Regions from separate parts of the Homo sapiens genome. Here region 2 is linked to region 1. The links come from fine-mapping of genetic effects on gene expression. A gene starts in region 1. The other region holds a variant in brackets. All regions are shown on one strand. Distances are between the middles of the regions. Region 1 holds the start of ZNF710 (zinc finger protein 710). Region 2 overlaps ZNF710 (zinc finger protein 710).

What was found. PIP is the estimated chance that this variant, and not a neighbour inherited with it, causes the effect. A credible set is the group of variants that fine-mapping cannot tell apart.
Region 2: its variant is the best candidate, but not a certain one, in a credible set for the expression of ZNF710 in whole blood (TOPMed, PIP 0.64).

The regions. Positions count from the first base shown.
Region 1 is chr15:89,996,790-90,006,130 of GRCh38, forward strand. ZNF710 (zinc finger protein 710) reads left to right here and starts at 4,535. Exons shown (of 5, transcript NM_198526.4): 1 at 4,535-4,825. RefSeq lists silencers at 3,987-4,156, 4,565-4,733, 5,149-5,648 and enhancers at 5,348-6,116, 6,117-6,884.
Region 2 is chr15:90,024,875-90,034,215 of GRCh38, forward strand. All of the region lies in intron 1 of ZNF710 (zinc finger protein 710), which reads left to right. Among named protein-coding and RNA genes, the nearest start is that of MIR3174, 23 kb to the left of the region's middle. The variant T/A (reference allele first, on the strand shown) is at 5,896.

The sequences.
Region 1 (9,341 bases):
GTAATCTGTAAGAGAGGAAATTGGTATGGAAAGTGGAGGAGACTCTAAAGAGGGGAAAACATGTTGAAAGAGAATTCCCAAAGGGAAACCCTGTCTACACATTCTGGCTCAGACACTCCATGGTAGTGACCTTAGGAAGTTTTTAAGCTTTTCGGTGCCTCAGCCTCCTCCTCTGTAAAATGATAATGACACCTACCTCAAATAAAGTGCTTAGCCCAGCCTCGCACTAAGGTGGCTGTACAGGTATGTTTATCAAAGCAGGTTCATAAAAGCGAAAAACCTGCAAACATCCCATGAGTCTAACAATTTGTTTAAACAAATTAAGATACACACATACCATGGAATAATATCATTCACTAAGAATGACAATGTGGGCTGGGTGAGGTGGCTTATGCCAGTAATCCCCACACTTTGAGAGGCTGAGGCAGGAGGATTGCTTGAACCTAGGAGTTCGAGACCAGCCTGGGCAACATAGCAAGACCCAGTCTGTACCAAAAAACAAAAAGAAAAAATACAGCCGAGCATGGTGGCACACAAATGTAACCCTAGTTACTCGGGAGGTTGAGGTGGGAGGATGGCTTGAGCCCAGAAGTTCGAGGCTGCAGTGAGCTATGATCATGCCACTGTAATCCAACCTGGCTGACAGAGCAAGACCCTGTATCCAAAGAAGAATGTGGATGTTTACAGACCAGAAGATAATTTGTGACATATACCGGGTGAAAGTAGCTGCAATTCAGTAGGTGTAGTGTTATGCCATTTTTGTTAATTTTGTAAAAATAACATGCTTATACATAGAGTCATCATTTGCTTAATGATATTGACTTTGTACAGTTTTATTATGGTGTGCACTTACATGTAGCCACTAGGATATAAAATGTCCAAGGATATACACCGAAATATGTCTCTAGATAGGGTTCGTTTTCGAATTCTTTCACAATGAACTTGTGTTGTAAAGAAATAACAGAGGGCTGGGCGCAGTGGCTCATGCCTGTAATCCTAGCACTTTGGGAGGCCGAGGCAGGCAGATCCCCTGAGGTCAGGAGTTTGAGACCAGCCTGGTCAACAGGGCAAAACCCTGTCTCTACTAAAAATAAAAAAAAAATTAGCTGGGTGTGGTGGCACATACCTGTAATCCCAGCTACTCGAGAGGCTGAGGCAAGAGAATCGCTTGAACCCAGGAGGCGGAGGTTGCAGTGAGCCAAGATCGTGCCACTGCACTCCAGCATGGGTGACAGAGCGAGACTCCCACTCACGAAAGAAATAATAGAAGTGTAAAATGTTTACAAAGCAGGAACTGGAGCTGTGGTATCTGCCTGGATCCTTGAGGGCATTTGGCTGGTGCCAAGTTCATGTGCAGGTCACTTGGAGAACCAATAATCCAACCAAAGGACTAAGAGGTTTTGGGAGCTTTAAATCACGTTGTGGAGAAGTCAATAATCACCCCCTATCCCTCCCCTGCTCCTCCAGTGCAAACTTCTGTGATTACGTCTCTCTCCTGAGCAAACATAGCCAGGTGCCTGCTCCCAGGGGCCTTCCTGGATTTCATGAGGCCCATCCTCTCCTGATTCCTATTTGTTCCTCAGGCAGGCTACAACTCTGCTGATCAGGCTGGGCCTTGATAACCAGTCATCAAGCTCTGGTCATGTTCCTGAGAAGCCACCTGGCCATCTTGATCGGATGTGGTGTTCACCAATCCCAGCCTCCCAGTGGGACACTGGTCATCTTTGAAGGAATGCTTCCCCCTCAGTCAGCTCATCATGTTTCTGGTGTGGTGAGTCACTCTGGTTTCAACCCTGAACGTAATCTTATTTCCAGGTCATCGGGGCACTACCCAGTCACTCCCTGATTTGTAGTAATAGTAAATAAAAGCTACCGGGGATTGGTGCTTATGTACCGGACACCATGCTAGGTGTGGGGTTTGAGCCTCACAACAAACTGTGAAGCAGGTATTTTTATCCCTATTTTACAGAAAAGTTAGAGAGGTTGACTTGCCCAGGAATATGCAGCAGGTAAGCCTGGGCCCTTAAACTAAGACACTGTCTCTGCAATCCACAGGTCTTCTTACCTGCATTTTATATGTCCCGAAATTAAGTCGAAGTTATTCACTGAAGTTATGTTATTCATTTACATTCATGAAGTTAGCAAGTGGGAGGGGCTAAAATCTGAATATTTCCCTGACACCCTCCCCTTTTTCCCACTTGTGCTCTATCCTCACTCTCCCCCCACCCACTTGTATTCTAAGCTGCAGTAAACACTTCAACTCTTGACAGTTCTAAGAACCTGTAATAATGTGCCGTCTTGCCCTGGGGCCTTTGGACAGACTGTTCTCTCCCATGCATTTGGCTAGCACAGCCTAATCTAGACACGACCTCCTCCAGGAAGCCACACCTGACCACCTTAGTCCAAGCACCCTCTTAGGAGCTTTCTTGGTTCACTCTTGCCTGTATCGCATGGCACTGAGGTTGCTGTCTTCTTTTCTTGCTCCTTCGCCTGCAAAGCCAAAGGCCAAAGCAAGGACTGCGTCTTGCTGATGATTCGGTCCTCAGCAGCCAGCACCTTCGCCGGCACGGGGTAGGTACTCAGTAGGCATTTGTTAAGTGCATGCTTGGCTCTAAGAGCTGCATTCTGCTTTTTTGGAGGATGCAGCTTGGGTGTACTAAGTGGGAGGCTGCAAGTGATGACGGAAATGTGGTTTCCTGCAGACCTGGGCAAAGGCCCTGGGGTCATTGGGGGCTCAGGGTGCTGATGTTAAAAGACCATGGTGTCCTTCTTGTTGAACCAAACTCTCAGGCTACTGTTTCCTCACTCCTCGTCAGAGACAAATGTGTTCTGAGTGACTGGAGTCATAGCTCAGAGCACCAGGAGCTGGTTTAGGGTGGGGCGAGGGGCCGTGGCCTTGGGGCTCTCGTTTCTAAAGGCCCAGGGCTCAGGGCTGGGGGGAGGGGTGAGGAGTGGCAGGTCGTGTCCCCGGGAGGCTGCAGTCACTGGGGGAGAGACAATGGGGCTCAGCATCTGCTCCTCCCTGGGAGAAGGGACCCTTCAGTGAAAAGCCAGGGAGAGCAGGGAAGTGTGGGAGGAATTGATGAGGAGAAGGGGTGGAGCCAAGGAGATGCAGCCGGGAGGAAGGAAGGGAAGGGAAGGAAGGGAAGAGGGAGGGGAGAGGATCCAGGCTTTCCTTCCTCCCGGTGACCTGGTCCTGAGCCGCAGCTTCCCTTGCATTGTTCCCTGAGTTTGCTCTCGGGGCCCACCGAGACCTCACGTTTCTCCCCCTGGCTGCAGCCCCAGTCCGAGGGCCCGGCATCCAGCAGGTGCTCAATACTTACTTGGGAAAATGACAAATGTGACCAACTTTGCTTTGGGAACTTTCCCCCGTCTTCTCCCCACTCCTCCGGAGAACCCGAGGACAGAGCAGGTCTTGGGAGCACGCCCGGGCGCCCCATGAATAATTGACCCTTCCTGGCGGCACTGCCCGGCTCTGTCCGAGGGCTCCGGACCCGCCCTGCGTTGCAGTCGAGAAACGGCTCGGAGTGGCGGGTGTTCTGGAGGTTGGAGGCCTGGTGTCCGGCCTGCGCCGGAGCTGGAGGGCGGCGAGGCTGTGCCAAACCCCGCGGCCCCTCAGGGAGCCGAGAGGGACCTGACGGCCGCGCTGCCAGCGACCACGCCTCGGCGCCCCCCAGCAGTGCGCCCCGGGGCCGAGGCCCAGGCCCTGGGCTCGGGGACCCCGCCAGCCCGCCGATCCCAGCAGCTGCCCTGAGCCCCTTCTCCACCCGGGCCCTGGCGCTCGGAGCCCGCGCCGCTCCCTCGAGTCAGGCCGTCCAGGGCTCTGCTAACAGCTGTTTAAAGGCTTTTGCTGTTCAGTGCTCTGCGGGGATGTTTGTTCCAGGCCCATCTGCCTACTTTAAAAATACATAAGTGAAGCACACACACCCAGCTTGCCACCTCTGGCTGGGGAGGGGCGGGCTCGGCGGCCCTCGCTCGCACTTGGGAAGGAACCGGCACCCAGGAGCCGCACCCGTGCCCCAACACCCGCACCGGCTCTCCTCTCCAGAGGACGCCCCTGGCTTCCCTTGGGGGGGGCGGGGCGCAGGGCCCCCGGGCCCCCTTTGTACCGGACAGGGCCGGGCCCCCCATTTCCAAGCGAGGTCTGCCTCTTCCCCGCTTCAGTTAATCTTTGTTCCCCTTTTCTGCTGAGAGGAGAAAAAAAAAAGAGAGAGAGAGAAAGAAAGAAAAGAAGGAAAAAAGGCGTGACTTGATTTTCAAACGAAACTCCCACAGCAAACAAAACCCTTTTAGAGAAATAAGAAAGGAGGAAGAAGGAAGAAAAGAGGGAAGAAAAAAACAGGAGAAAGAAAACCCTTCAGGCTTTCAATTCGAGTGGGAGAGTTGAACCGAAAGAAAGAGAAAGAAAGGAAGAAAAATCCTCTGCGGTAGAAAGAGAAAAGAAAACTTGGGCTGACAAGAGGGAGGTGTTGGGGGTGGAAGGAAGTGAGAAAACAAAAGAGAGATAAAAGGGCTGCTTTTCTGTCTCTCTCTTCCTCTGCGAGCTGGCTTAGGAGGAGCTGTTTTGCATCCCTTCACGTCAGCCCTGCCTCATTCCCTTCTTCCAGGGAGGGAGAGAGCGCGAGCGAGAGAGCGAGCGAGAGGAGGGGGGAGAGAGAGAAAGAGAGGAGCCGGAGGGAGGGCGGCAGGAGCAGGCGGCGGGCGCGCGTGGAGGCGGGCGGCGGGCGCACAGCAGCAGCCCGGGCGGTGGGCAGCCAGGAGCCCCCGGCCCGGCCCGGCCCGGCCCGCCGAGGGCCCCAGCGCAGGAGCCGCGCCCGGACCCAGGGTGAGTGTCCCGCGCGGCCCCCCGCCCCAGCCCCAGCCCCAGCCCCGCAGCCCCGCGCTGCCGGCCGGCGGGGGCGCGGGGGGCGCGGGGGTGGGTCGCTGCGGCCGCGGCCGACCCGCCCCCCGCCTCTCCCTGGGGACGGCCGCGCGCAGGCCCGCGCCGCGCTGCAAACATGTCGTCTTTTCCTTTCACTTCCACATTCCCTCATGCCGGAGAGCTGGAGGGAGAGAGGGAGAGCCGGGGAAAGAGGGAGAGATGGCGTCTGGGGTGGGGGGGAGGGAGAGGAGGGGGAGGGGGAAGGGAGAGGGAGGGAGCGAGCGAAAGAGGGCGAGAGGGAGGAGAGCGCGCGAATGAGAGAGAGAGAGAGAGAGAGAGAGAGAGAGGCAAAAATGAAAGGAAAGCGTCGCGGCGGCGGCGGCGGCGGCGCGGGAGGCCCGGGAGGCGACGGTGGCGGAGGCTCTCGGGCCCGCACGTGGGTGTCCCGGTGCTGGGTGCGCTCCCCCCACACCCGGCCCGGGACTCAAAGTTTCACCCCCTCGCCGCCCCGCCCCTACGGCTGCCCACAAACTTTATTCTCGGAGCGGGTGGGGTTGTTGCGCGTCCCAGCCGGCCGGGGGTGGGGGAGAGCTGAGCGCGCCGCTGGCGGGGCTGGGGGCGTCCCCGAGGGCCACTGGCCGCCGCACGCTGGGCGCCGCGGGATCTCCGCCGGGACAGCGTCGGGGCGCCGCGGGCCGGGGACCCAGGACCGGCGCTCGCTGTCTGGGGGCGTGGGGGTGGGGGTGGCGGGCGGGGTCCCTACGGCCCGTCTTGAGCCTCCCGCGGCTCAGCCCCCCTTCCTCCTCGTCGCCCTCTCTCCGTCTTCTCGCGGTCATTTTCCTAATTGGATGGAGCTGTGGGGCGTGAGCACCAGCGTCAGATCGGGGCCCTCAGGCTACCAGGTGGGCGCGCGGGCTCGGGGACCGACGGGGCAGCCCCAGCCTCCCCACCCTAGGCGCACAGATCCCGCAGATCCGGCCCTTGGGCCACCGCCCCCTTCACCGCGGACTTGCTAACTAGTGCGTATCGGGTTTTTTTCCAACTTGCCTTTTAAGATGACTTTTATGGGCGCTGCAACTGCTTCCCTCCAGTCTAAGCTGTAGTTTGGAAAGATTTAAGAGGCCAGGGAGGTGCTTGTGTGGATTTTAACCAACCTGAAAGGGTCATTCATGTATCTCTAGGATTTGCGAGACGGTTAGGGCAAGGCGTAGCAGTATCCGGGGTGCCTTTTCTTTTTTCTTGATATGGAGTCTTGCTCTGTCGCCCAGGCTGGAGTGCAGTGGCGCGATCTCGGCTCACTGCAGCCTCCGTCTCCCGGGTTCAAGCGATTCTCCTGCCTCAACCTCCCCAATAGCTGGGACTACAGGCGCACGCCACCACGCCCGTTTAATTTTTAATTATTTTTAGGAGAGACGGGGTTTCACCATATTGGCCAGGCTGGTCTCAAACTCCTGACCTCGTGATCCGCCCGCCCCGGCCTCCCAAAGTGCTGGGATCACAAGGACTCTTCGAGGTACTCGTCCTACTGGGTCTGAGGGAGGCCTGCCGGGCAATCCAGTGAGGGACCAACGTCATGGCCCACCCTTGAGCTGCAGGCCGAGTGCCCACCTGCAAAGGGCACCCTGAGCACCTTTCTTGCTGTGCAAAATGGAAACTCCCGGCCGGTATCGACCTGCAGTGTACATAACTAGTCCCTGTGGGCATCTGGGAAATTCACAAAACTCCCCCACAGGTGTGCGGAGAAGGACTTTGTGCTCTTGGGGGTCACTCAGCCAGCTTTGAAGCTGCCCTCTCAGTCCTGCATTTGTACACGTGTAAGTAAAACCAGTCAAAGTTCATTTCTGCCAAGTAGAGGGCTGGGGGTCTGTGTCCCTATTGCATCTTCACCAGGGGGCCTAGAGAACCAATGGGGCCACGTGGGAGAAGGGAAGAAGAAAACCGTTCTTAACTCGTTAGATAAGAGACAGTGTATTCCTAATGTGATCAAAGCCGATGGGGCTATCTGGTTTTGACTTCTGAAAACCTAGAGTGGCCATTCCTTTCTCATTTGTTTTAAAGAGAATGTTATTTTCTATACTTTCTCATTGGTTTTATTAGCTGACCCTCAGGCCAGGGTAACTGTGCTGGGTACCTGCCAGTCTCGGAGCAGAACCTCTGATCGGTCATCTGTAGCTCCAGAGAGGTGCCCACCTGGTGCCCCAGTGACCTTCTGGAGCTGGCTTTCCTGCATGAGGGCCGTGGGGATAGAGCTGCTTTCTTTTGGGTAGGGGGAATTGGATGTTTGGGTCACATTTTCTTCCTCCAGCCTGGCCTGGTTGCCTGTGTCTTGGTGGAGGGGGCTGCAGTGAGTTGAAGTGGGACGCGGGCTCACTTGCTTGTCTTCTCAGAGCTGATACCTGGGTGAGTCCTCAGCCCACGGTGTGTGGTCAGCGGGCCATTTTTCCAGGGCTTGGGTCATTTCCATTCCAACCAGGCATTTCCTACCAGGGAGACTTATTTTAGGCTCACTGTCTAGAGACAAGGAGACAGACAAGGTCTGGAATGGTTTTTGAGTTGGAGGAAGGGAGACTAATGGGACCACCAGAGATTTTGCACTTCTATTTTAGGTTTGCCTTGTGGCCCAGAGATATTTCTAGCAGAGTTGTGTTTGGAAAGAAGCACAACTTCTTTCTAGAAGGGAGTAAATAAATAAATAAAGGAGGAGTCCAGCGCATCTTGGAGGAGACAAGTGAAGTCAGCTCCCTGGCCCCACCAGTGCTGATGCTTGGCGCAGGCTCATAATCTGGCTTGCTGACCCCTCCCATACCCTCGTTCCTCAGGCCTAGCCAGGGCCTAGCCCGCGGCAGGACTCATTATGTTGAAATAAGGAATCTGTGAATGTGCTGGGCCTGCTGTTAATGGTGCTTGCTCCCAGCCCTTTGACTTCAAAGCTGGAAGAAGGCCTTAGAGATTGTCTGAAAGCAACTGAGGCAGGAAGAAAGCTCTGTACCCAGGATTACACAGTAAGTGGCAGAGCCAGCACTCAACCTGAGCTTTCAGAGCCTGTTCCCAGTGCTGTTTCTACAAGGCCACTGTCTCTGCTACTGCTGGGGATCCCGAATCAAGCTCACTTCAAAGAATGTAGCTATGAGAGCATGAAACCGTGCGCTCACGCCGCACACGAGTTGGGTAAATGGAGCGCCTCATTTTCCAGATGTGTTACAGAAACTGTGCTGGAGGATGTGACTGGCCAGTGAGACAACTAGGGGGAACTGGGTGATTCAGGCTGTTTCAACACTGACTTCTTCAAAGTCCAACAATCAGAGAAGCAGTTTAGTCATCGGGATTTTCTCACATCACACCATTTTTTGATCTGGAATGCTTTCTTCATACTTTGACTTGTATGTGATTTATTTAGGATTGGTCAGGAGAGAAGAGAAGGAGTGTAAGGACCCAAGACCTGAACTGATTTCCATCTGTGGGTTAAATGTACTAGAACGTTTGTGAGGGTAGACGTCTTTGCTTTGTTCATTGCGGAGCCCCTGTGCCTAGAATAGGGTCTGATCTATAGTGGGCCCTCAGTAGATACTTGCTGAATGAATGTACTGGACATTAGGGAAGATTTGCCTGCCAGAAGGAACCCATGAATGACACAGGCAGGGACAGGGAGGTGATTGATGGGAGCTGCAGAGTTGTGCTGTGAGTCATTGCTTCAAACAAGCTCCAGACAGGTGAGGCAGGAGGGGGCTGGGAAGAGAGGATCCTGAATGGGGTGGAGCCCCTGGGTGGAGACTTGTGCAAAACAATAGGTTTTTTTAGATTTTTTTTTTCTTTTTTTGAGACGGAGTCTCACTCTTTCACCAGGCTGGAGTGCAGTGGCGCGATCTCAGCTCACTGCAACCTTCGCCTCCTGGCTTCAAGCGATTCTCCTGCCTCAGCCTCCTGAGTAGCTGGGACTACAGGCATGCGCCACTACACCCAGCCTAATTTTTATATTTTTAGTAGAGACGGGGTTTCACCAGGTTGGCCAGGATGGTCTCGATCTCTTCACCTCGTGATCTGCCCGCCTCGGCCTCCCAAAGTGCTGGGATTACAGGCGTGAGCCACTGCACCCGGCCTAAAACAATAGGTTTTGAATTGGACTCAGAATATAGGGAGAATAATAATAATCATGTGTCTTAGGCCAGAATTATGCTACGTGCTTTGTGTATTTGTCTCTCTTAGTTCTTGCAGGTGCTGGCTCTTGCATTCTTATCCTCATTTGGCAGAGGAGTTAAATAACTTGTCCAAGGGCACAGAGCTGGTATCTAAACCCAGGCTGTCTAACTTCAAACTTTGCCTCTCAGGAACGATGATGTGGTCATATGTCTCTGCCCATGCCAAAGAGTTGGGCGTTCAGCACTTTGGGGTTCCTTGGAAGGACAGCAGCAGAAAAACTAAAGAAGAAATTGTGGGTCTGCAGCAGAGGGAGGCTGGTCAGGGAGTGTGCCTGAAGAGGGTT
Region 2 (9,341 bases), 28 kb after region 1:
GCAAGGGCCTGCACCGGGTATTTGGCCAGAGTTCCTCTGAATTCACTTGGTCTCTGGCAGTTGACCTTGGGTTGAAAATGCAGTTTTTTGAGTGGGCTTTAGAGATCATGCTGAGGAAGAAAGAAAATAGCGTGCACGGATGTGTTGCTGTGGTTGGATTTCACTGGCTGTTTTTCATATACCTGTCTTTTCCCTGTGAGAGAAAACAGCCATGACAGTAAGCAGGGGAAGCTCATTTGAGAGTAGGGGACGTGGAGGGATGAGGGCAGTTCTCCGGGGCACCCCTGAAAATGAATTTCCTCCTCCAGAGCCAGGGTGACCGGGTCCCTCACAGGGCCACCGTCTGCAGGCATCAACACTCTTTTGGGTCTAAATCCAATTATTCCTCAAGTTCTTCTTGGTGGCTTCCTTCACTCTCTGGCCAGGGGGAGTTTTGCAGAAATACTGTTCTAACAGCAGAGCATGTCTGTGACCAAACCTTGGGCAAATACATATTTAAAGAAATCTTATTATTAAAATAGTCAACCTTATGGTTTATGTAGACAATCTGATAAACACAGACAAGGGTAAAGACAGTACAAATTGCTCCATAATCTCACAAGCTGGAAATTACCAACACCATTTAGTACTTTTGTGTATTTCCTCACAGCCTTTTTCATTGCATATATGTAAATACACTGTATTTTAAACATGGTTACAAGCACATTGAACTTTATATCATTTTTCTTTTTCATTTGACATAACATTATGGCAAACAAAAACTTTAAAAAAGCACATGGGCTTTACAAGTGAGCATATGCTTTGCAAACATTTCTGTCAGCTACCAGTAACCAACTGCAAAAACTCATATTCTACCCAAAACAGAAATTGTGCCAGTCGGGGAGTCCTTTGATCACCATGCAGTAAACCTCGCCAAAATATTGTAAATTTAAACAAACTAAAACCCAACCACTTGAAAAAATTTAAAGCACTTAAATTGCTATTGGTTCAAGGAAGAAATAAAGAATGTACTGACAAATATTTAGAAAGCATTGAAAACTAGAATGCCACATACCCAAACCTATGGGAGACAGCTGGCACTATTCTCATAGCCTTAAATGCTTTTATTATTAAAAAGGGAGAGAGAAAAGGCAAATAAACTAAGCATTCAGCCTGAGTGCTTAGGAAAAAAAAAGAATAAAAACAGCCCCTAAGGAAAATGAGAGGGGAAAAAAATAGTAAAGATAAAGGCAGAAATCAATGAATTAAGAAACGGAAACACAGTGAAATCAGCAAACGTATCCAAGAGCTGATTCTGTTTTTAAACAAACAGTAAAGTAGCCTAACCCCTGGCAATTCTATTTGAGAAATAAAAGGGAGAAATGAGAAAAAAAACAAAACAACAACAACAACAACAAAAAAAAAAAAGGGAATGAGAAAGGGGACATTGCAATAGATACAGAGGAGATTTTAAAATAATAGAAACGTATGCACAATCATAGGCATAATTTCAAAATCTCAATTAAATGCATGCTTTTCTGAAAATATATATGTTGCTAATTGAGAAAAAATTTTCAATCCTTATCGAAGCATTGCCCCTCTACCCACCAAAGACACTGGTCCCAAGTGTTTTTGCTAGTTAATTATTTTGAATTTGATAATACTGATAATGCTAAGCTGTTCCACAGCTTAGCAAAAGATGGAGAGCTCTCCAGTTCATTCTACAAAGCAAAATAAGCCTGATATTAAACATGGCAAAGAGACTATTTTGAAGCATGAAAATGCTGGGTAGGAAATAGAATTCAATAATATATTAAACAAGTCATCCACCATAACCCAGTGGGGCAGGAGGAAAGAATAGTCAATATTAGGAAAGCTTAATATAGTAACTACGTCATGCTAATGCATTAAAAAAGTAAAACCGTATTGTTTCCAATATGTGCTGGGGAAAAATGATTAAATTGAACAACCATGTCTACCTAACCAATACAGCAAAAAAAAGGAACAGAAGGGTGCATTCTTAGCATAATAAAAAATATTTCAAACCAATAACCAATTCTGTAATTAACTTAAACACTAGAGGCATTCTTGTGGAAACCAGTAACAAAATAAGGAGGTCTGCCATCACCATCACTATTTAACATTGCTTTTAACACTCTAGTCAACATGATAATACTGAAACAGAAACATATAAATATTATAAAGAAAGAGTAAAAGTATTAAATAACAGTAAGTACAATTTACCCTCTGCCAAATCTTAGGCTAGAGGTTTATTTCCAAAGTTTAGAACCAATAGCAAAAGTCATCAAAAAATTCAACAGATTTGACTACCTTAAAAAATTGTAACTTCTTTTTCTTCTTCTGTTTTTTTTTTGGAGACAGAGTCTTGCTCTGTCGCCCAGGCTGGAGTGCAATGGCGAGATCTCAGCTCACTGCAATGTCCAACTCCTGGGTTCAAGCGATTCTCCTGCCTCAGCCTCCCAAGTAGCTGGGATCACAGGCGTGTGCCACCAACCCGGCTAATTCTTGTATTTTTAGTAGAGACGGGGTTTCACCATGTTGGTCAGGCTTGTCTCAATCTCCTGACCTTAAATGATCCACCTGCCTCGGCCTCCCAAAGTGCTAGGATTATAGACGTGAGCCATATGCCCAGCCATTGATATTTTAATTCTACCAAGATCCTATATATAGATTAGTTTTTAAAAATCAAGATTTAAATTTGAAGGCCTTGCTCATGCCTGTAATACTAGCACTTTGGGAGGCCAAGGCAGGCTGATCATTTGAGGCCAGGAGTTCAAAACCAGCCTGGCCAACATGGCAAAACCCTGTCTCTACTAAAAATACAAAAATTAGCTGGATGTGGTGGTGTGTGCCTATAGTCCCAGCTGCTCGGAAGGCTGAGGCATGAGAATCACTTGAACCTGGGAGGTTGCAGTTAGCCGAGATTGTGCCACTGTACTCTAGCCTTGGTGATGGAGTGAGACACTGTCTCGAAAAAAAAAAAAAAAGATTTAAATTTGAAGACAATATGCACAGACGATATAATTAGCAAACAAATGCCCGACCTAAAGAAAATGCCAAATGGTGAGCTCCATGAGGCTAGGAACCAGGTCAGTTCTGCGTAACAGATACTAAATTGAGTTAATATTTGTTGACTCTATTGAATTAATATTTGTTGAAGAAATTAATGAATGCAATACAAGTTTTGAAAGTATACCATTTTTAACTTTTTAAATTAGAAGAGTTTTTAAAAGATTTTATTATGAAAGAATTTCAACTATTGAGAAAAATTGAAAGTATATAACAGTAAATACCCATACACCAATGGCTGAGATATAATAGATGTTAACATTTGCCATATTTGCTTCATCTGCACAGGTATATATATTTTTTCCTGAACCATTTTGAAGAAAGTTACAGAGCACACATCATTTCTCCCTTCAATAGTTCCGCATACAAATCCTCTGTCACCCAGAACTTAGCAATCTGAATGCAGGGTATGGGAAGCTGCTGCACTGTGCTCCAAGGGTGTCTCTGCAGATTGTCCCAGTCTCTGAGAAGGTATTTAGGAGTCACCAACATGACCTGCTGATATGTAAGAGAAAAGAAAACATGCATTTATTGTGGATCATGCCCTGTGCTGGGAGTTTACCAATGGCCTCCTGTTTAAATCCTTTTTACAATTCTGCCCATATTACAGGAAGTTGAGGTTCAGAGAGGTTAAGTAACTTGCCCCAGTTGACACAGTGTCATTATTCACCAAGTCCCTTCTGACACCATCAAATTACCTGACATTTGCCTCTTCCCTTTATCTTCTCTGTGCGTGAATGCATGGAGGTGATTTGTTGGGCAGTGTGGACAGACGGGAAGCAATCTCAATGTCCTCCAGTGCAAGAATTGGCAGGCAAATGGGGATGTGTGTGAACGGTGTGACTATGAACATGGGTGATCGATTACGGACATGCAAGATGGAAAATTGCTTGTGGCATCCAGATAAGGGAAAACAAGTAGGACACCAGATTGTATACACTGTGATCAAAACCATGTGAAAAACACATGCATGAAGAGGACTGGGAAGAAATACACAAGAAGTGGTTGCATTAGGGTGAGAAGGAGTATTCATGTTTTTCTCATCCGTCTTTTTCAAACCTTTTGTAATGGGTGGTTTTATTAATTTTATAATGGAAAATGTTAATTTAAAAGCAAGTTATTTACAGTTTAGTAAGCTCATGGCAGGGAAAGGCTGTGCTCTGTTTATTGCTCTTACTTTTTCCCAACGCCTACTCCCATGCCTGGCAATTATAGAGATAATAAATGTGGGTGTGGAATGAGTGCCCACTGGGAAACCTCTCAGAGGACTTTGACCCAGGAACATATTTGCACAGGGTTTCCCTCAGCTGGAGAAGGTTTCTCTGGGAGAGCACCAGCCAGGTGTGTGTCATGGGATATATTTACAGGGTGGTGAGCTCTCCTGGTCCAACCTAAAAGGTCCCAGCAAGGTGTAGGGGCCCTTCTGGCCATTTGACATCACCAGGGCAGTTAGTGCTGATACAAACCACAGAGAATGAACAAACTCCAACTCAAACGGGAATGGATTTTATGTCATTCTGGGACTTTCAAACTTGATAATAGACCAAGCATGGTGGCTCACACATGTAATCCTAGCACTTTGGGAAGCCAAGGTGGGAGGATCGCTTGCGGCCAGGAGATTGAGACCAGCCTGGGAAAGGTAGCAAGACCCAGTCTCTACAAAAAAATTTTTTGTTCTGTTTTGTTTTTGAGACAGAGTCTCAACTCTGTCGTCTAGGCTGGAGTGCAGTGGTTTGATCTTGGCTCACTACAACCTCCACCTCCGGGTTCCAGTGATTCTCCTGCCTCAGCCTCCCGAGTAGCTGGGATTACAGGCACATGCCACCATGCCCGGCTAATTTTTCTATTTTTAGTAGAGATGGGGTTTCACCATGTTGGCCAGGCTGGTCTCAAACTCCTGACCTTAGGTGATCCGCCCACCTCGGCCTCCCAAAGTGCTGGGATTACAGGCGTGACCCACCGTGCCTGGCCAAAAAACTTTTTAGTAATTAAAAAGATCAAGCTTGATAATCACAATCATATGAGCAGTTATTAAGTGCCAGCCTAAGTGCATTTACAGACATTCCTTATTTAATTTTCACAACAGCCATTAGCATTAGCTATCGGCCGGGCACAGTGGCTCACACCTGTAATCCCAACACTTTGGGAGGCTGAGGCGGATGGATCGCCTGAGGTCAGGAGTTCGAGACCAGCCTGGCCAACATGGTGAAACCCCGTCTCTACTAAAAATACAAAATTAGCCGGATGTGGTGGTGCATGCCTGTGATCCCAGCTATTTGGGAGGCTGAGGCAGGAAAATCACTGGAACCTGGGAGGCAGAGGTTGCAGTGAGCCAATATCACGCCATTGCATTCCGGCCTGGGCAACAAGAGCAAAACTCCATCTCAAAAAAAAAAAAAAAAAAAAAAAAGAAAGAATTAGCTATCAGCTCCATTTTATAGATGAGGAAACTGAGGCACAGAGGAAGGAGGGATGGGTTTCAAGGCCGGTCTTGGTTTTGCCAAGAACTTGACTTTCAGCAAATCGTAAGCCTTCTGGGCTTTCATTTCCTTGTCTCTGAACGAAACAGCTGGCAGGAGTTGAATGCTTATCATGTGCCAGGCCCTGGCCGAACACTCTGAACATGTGCGCACAGAGTGTGTGTTAACCAGTGGGGGAGGGGGCACCAAGCAGGCCCATCTGGGTGGGAATATGAAGCCACCTTCCCAACAGGGCAGTCACATATGCCCAGTAGGAAAGAGCTGTATCTGTGCTGCAGAGAGGGTCATTTCAAATTAAAAAAAAAAAAATTGGCTGGGCGCGGTGGCTCACGCCTGTAATCCCAGC[T/A]CTTTGGGAGGCCGAGGCAGGCAGATCATGAGGTCAGGAGATCAAGACCATCCTGGCTAACACGGTGAAACCCCGTCTCTACTTAAAAAAATACAAAAAATTAGCCGGGCATGGTGGCGCGCGCCTGTAGTCCCAGCTACTTGGGAGGCTGAGGCAGGAGAATGGCGTGAACCCGGGAGGCGGAGCTTGCAGTGAGCCGAGATCCCGCCACTGCACTCCAGCCTGGGCGACAGAGCGAGACTCCGTCTCAAAAAAAAAGAAAAAAAAAAAAATGCTTAATGGATTGTTTGGTAACAAATGGATACCAACAAATACAAAATGGCCATTTCTTTTTCTTTCTTTAAAGAAACATTTGAATTGGAGGCTTAGGCTCATCTCAAGAGGTTGTGGACCCGACAGTTGGTGGTGATGGGTTTTGTTCATAAATGAGAATAATAGTTGTGAGTTTAATCCAACACATTGATTGAAGTGAATGAAAAAGAACACATAAGCTGTGTGAATATAGTGACTAATCATAGACTCTCGGGATTGAAATGTACCCTGGGGGGATCCAGGATGCAGCATCACCCGGGAGCTTATTATTAATGGAAACGAAGTATCTCTCACAGCACCCTAGACCTGCTGAAGCAGAATCTGCATTTTAGCAAGATCCCCGGGTGATTCCTCAGCACATTTGAGAAGCAGCGCTCTCATTTGTCCTGTCTCCTTTGAGGAAATCGGAAGACTAGAGAGGTTAAGTGAGGACACACAGGAAGTTCTAAAAAACTGTAACTCTGGTCTCTCAACACCAGGTCTTTGCACAGCACTTGCCCCATGGGAGAAACCCGGTTGGTTTTGTTTTTGCTTGTTTTGCATTCCCAAGACCAATTCTTGTGAGCCACTGGTCATAGCCCATCTCTCTTGTTTTCATGCAGCAGGGGCATCTTCAGTGGCCACGTCATCTCTCACTCTCTGCTGGGGAGCTTGTTAAAATGCAGTTGCCTGGGTCCAGCCCCAAATCCACTGGATCTGGGTGGGTGGGAACCAAGTGCCTGCACCTTAAAATACCCTCAGGTATTCCTAGGTGCCAGTGTTGTTACGGCCAGCTTGGGCCAGCTATGAACTGTTACAGTGGCTTTTTATTCTGAAATTAAACCTGCAGATACTTGGGCTAGTATCGACTAAAGCCCATTTTCATCTGAAGGAAGCCATCCAGCTACTAACATTATATTGTGTACTGAGTATTGACTGTGAATTTCTGTTTTTTTGAGACGGAGTCTCGCTGTCGCCCAGGCTGGAGTGCAGTGGCGCGATCTCAGCTCACTGCAACCTCTGGCTCCCAGGTTCAAGCAATTCTCTTGCCCTCAGCCTCCCAAGTAGCTGGGATTAGAGGCGCCTGCCACCACGCCTAGCTAATTTTTGTATTTTTAGTAGAGACAGAGTTTTGCCATATTGGCCAGGCTGGTCTCGAGCTCCCAACCTCAGGTGATCCTCCCGCCTCGGTCTCCCAAAGTGCTGGGATTATAGGCGTGAGCCACTGTGTCCAGCCACTGTGAATTTCTCATTAACAGAACGTTCTCTTTCAACCTCAGCTCCATGGAACTCAGCAGATCACATGTGGTTGAATGTAAATTCCAGGACATTTAAATGTATTATTTTCTATTTTTAAGAGAGAGGAGAGGCAGATTGGATGAACTTGGAAAATTAAATGGCCCCCAAAAAGTAACAATTAAGAATGTGTGTTTGGGGCTGGGCACGGTGGCTCATGCCTGCAATCACAGCACTTTGGGAGGCCTAGGCAGGAGGATCACTTGAGGTCAGGAGTTCGAGACCAGCCTGGCCAACATGGCAAAACCCCATCTCCACTAAAAATACAAAAATTAGCTGGACATGGTGGTGGGCACCTGTAATCCCAGGTACTTGGGAGGCTGAGGCAGGAGAATTGCTTGAACCCAGGAGGCAGAGGTTGCAGTGAGCTGAGATTGTGCTACTGCACTCCAGCCTGGGCAAGAGTGAGATTCCATCTCAAAAAAAAAAAAAAAAAAAGAATGTGTGTTTGGCCTGTATAGTCTTAGCTACTCAGGAGGCTAAAGCAAGAGGATTCCTTGAGTCCAGGAGTTCAAGGCCAGCATGGACAACATAGCAAGAACTTGTTTCTAAAAAAAGAAAAAAAAAGTGTGTGTTTGAAATTTGAGGCTCTGTGGCTAGAATTTTCACTTAAGAGGAAATATATATCTGCATTTAAAATTCTTTAATTTATAAACATTCTTGTGTATTCTTAGGCCAGTGCCCCACAAAAGTATGGGCCATGCACCAGTGCTGTTCTGCACAATGTTAACCAAGCAAGAGGAGGAGCTAAACATAGAAAATGGGATTGGTGTTTAGAAACTTCTGTAGTTTGACATTGGCAGGATGACATCCAAATGGGCGATTGGTGGCTTCATCTCGAACAGCGTGTGGGCCAGGGTGAGCACTGTTGACCCCACGTGGCAGGACTCAGGACTAAACTGCTTGTTGATGTTAGATCTGAGAGGGATTAAGGATTAAGATGAATCAAACTGACCTTTCACCACAGAGTTTGAGAAGCACTGGGGATGTTAAAGGTGGGGAAAGTTTGCAGCGGGAGGTGTGCTTTTTAAGCTTAGGAAGTGGAAAGCAGGAGAAGAGTTGGACAGGCAGAAGTCTTCTCGCTCCCACTTCACCCTCGAGATCCCAACAGGCCAGTTCAGGCAGAAAGGGGTTGGCTCCTAGGCTAGCCGGCTACTCCACGTTGAGCCTTCTGCCTTGTCCCATATGTTCCTTTTTCCTGTTTTTTTAGAGACAGGTTCTCACTCTGTTGCCCAGGCTGGAGTGCAGTGTCTGTTCACAGGCATGATCATAGCTCACTGCAGCCTTGACCTCCTGGGCCTGAGCGATCCTCCCAACTCAGCCTCCCAAGTAGCTGGGACCATAGGCATTCGCTACCATGCCCAGCTTGTCCCATAGACTTGGTTTGACTCTGGTCACAGAGCCTGGGGAGAAACTCCTTGATTCAAGGCAGAGCAAGGTGGTTTAAGAGATGGCCTTCTGAGTCCTGCCTGGCCTGGGTATGGAAACGTGGGCGCTACCAGCTGTGCAAGCTTGGCCCACTGACTTTCTTTCTTTGCCCCTCAGAGTTTAGAAAATGGGAATGGCTGGATGCGGTGGCTCATGCCTGTAATCCCAGCACTTCTGAAGGCCGAGGCAGGCAGATCACTTGAGGTCAGGAGTTCAAGACCAGCTTGGCTAACATGGTGAAACCCTGTCTTTACTAAAAGTACAAAAATTAGCTGGGCGTGGTAGCAGCTGTAGTCCCAGCTACTCGGGAGGCTGAGGTGGGAGAATCGCTTGAACCCAGGAGGCAGAGGTTGCAGTGAGCCGAGATCGCATCATTGTACTCCAGCCTGGGTGACAGAGTGAGACTCTGTCTCAAAAAAAAAGAAAAGAAA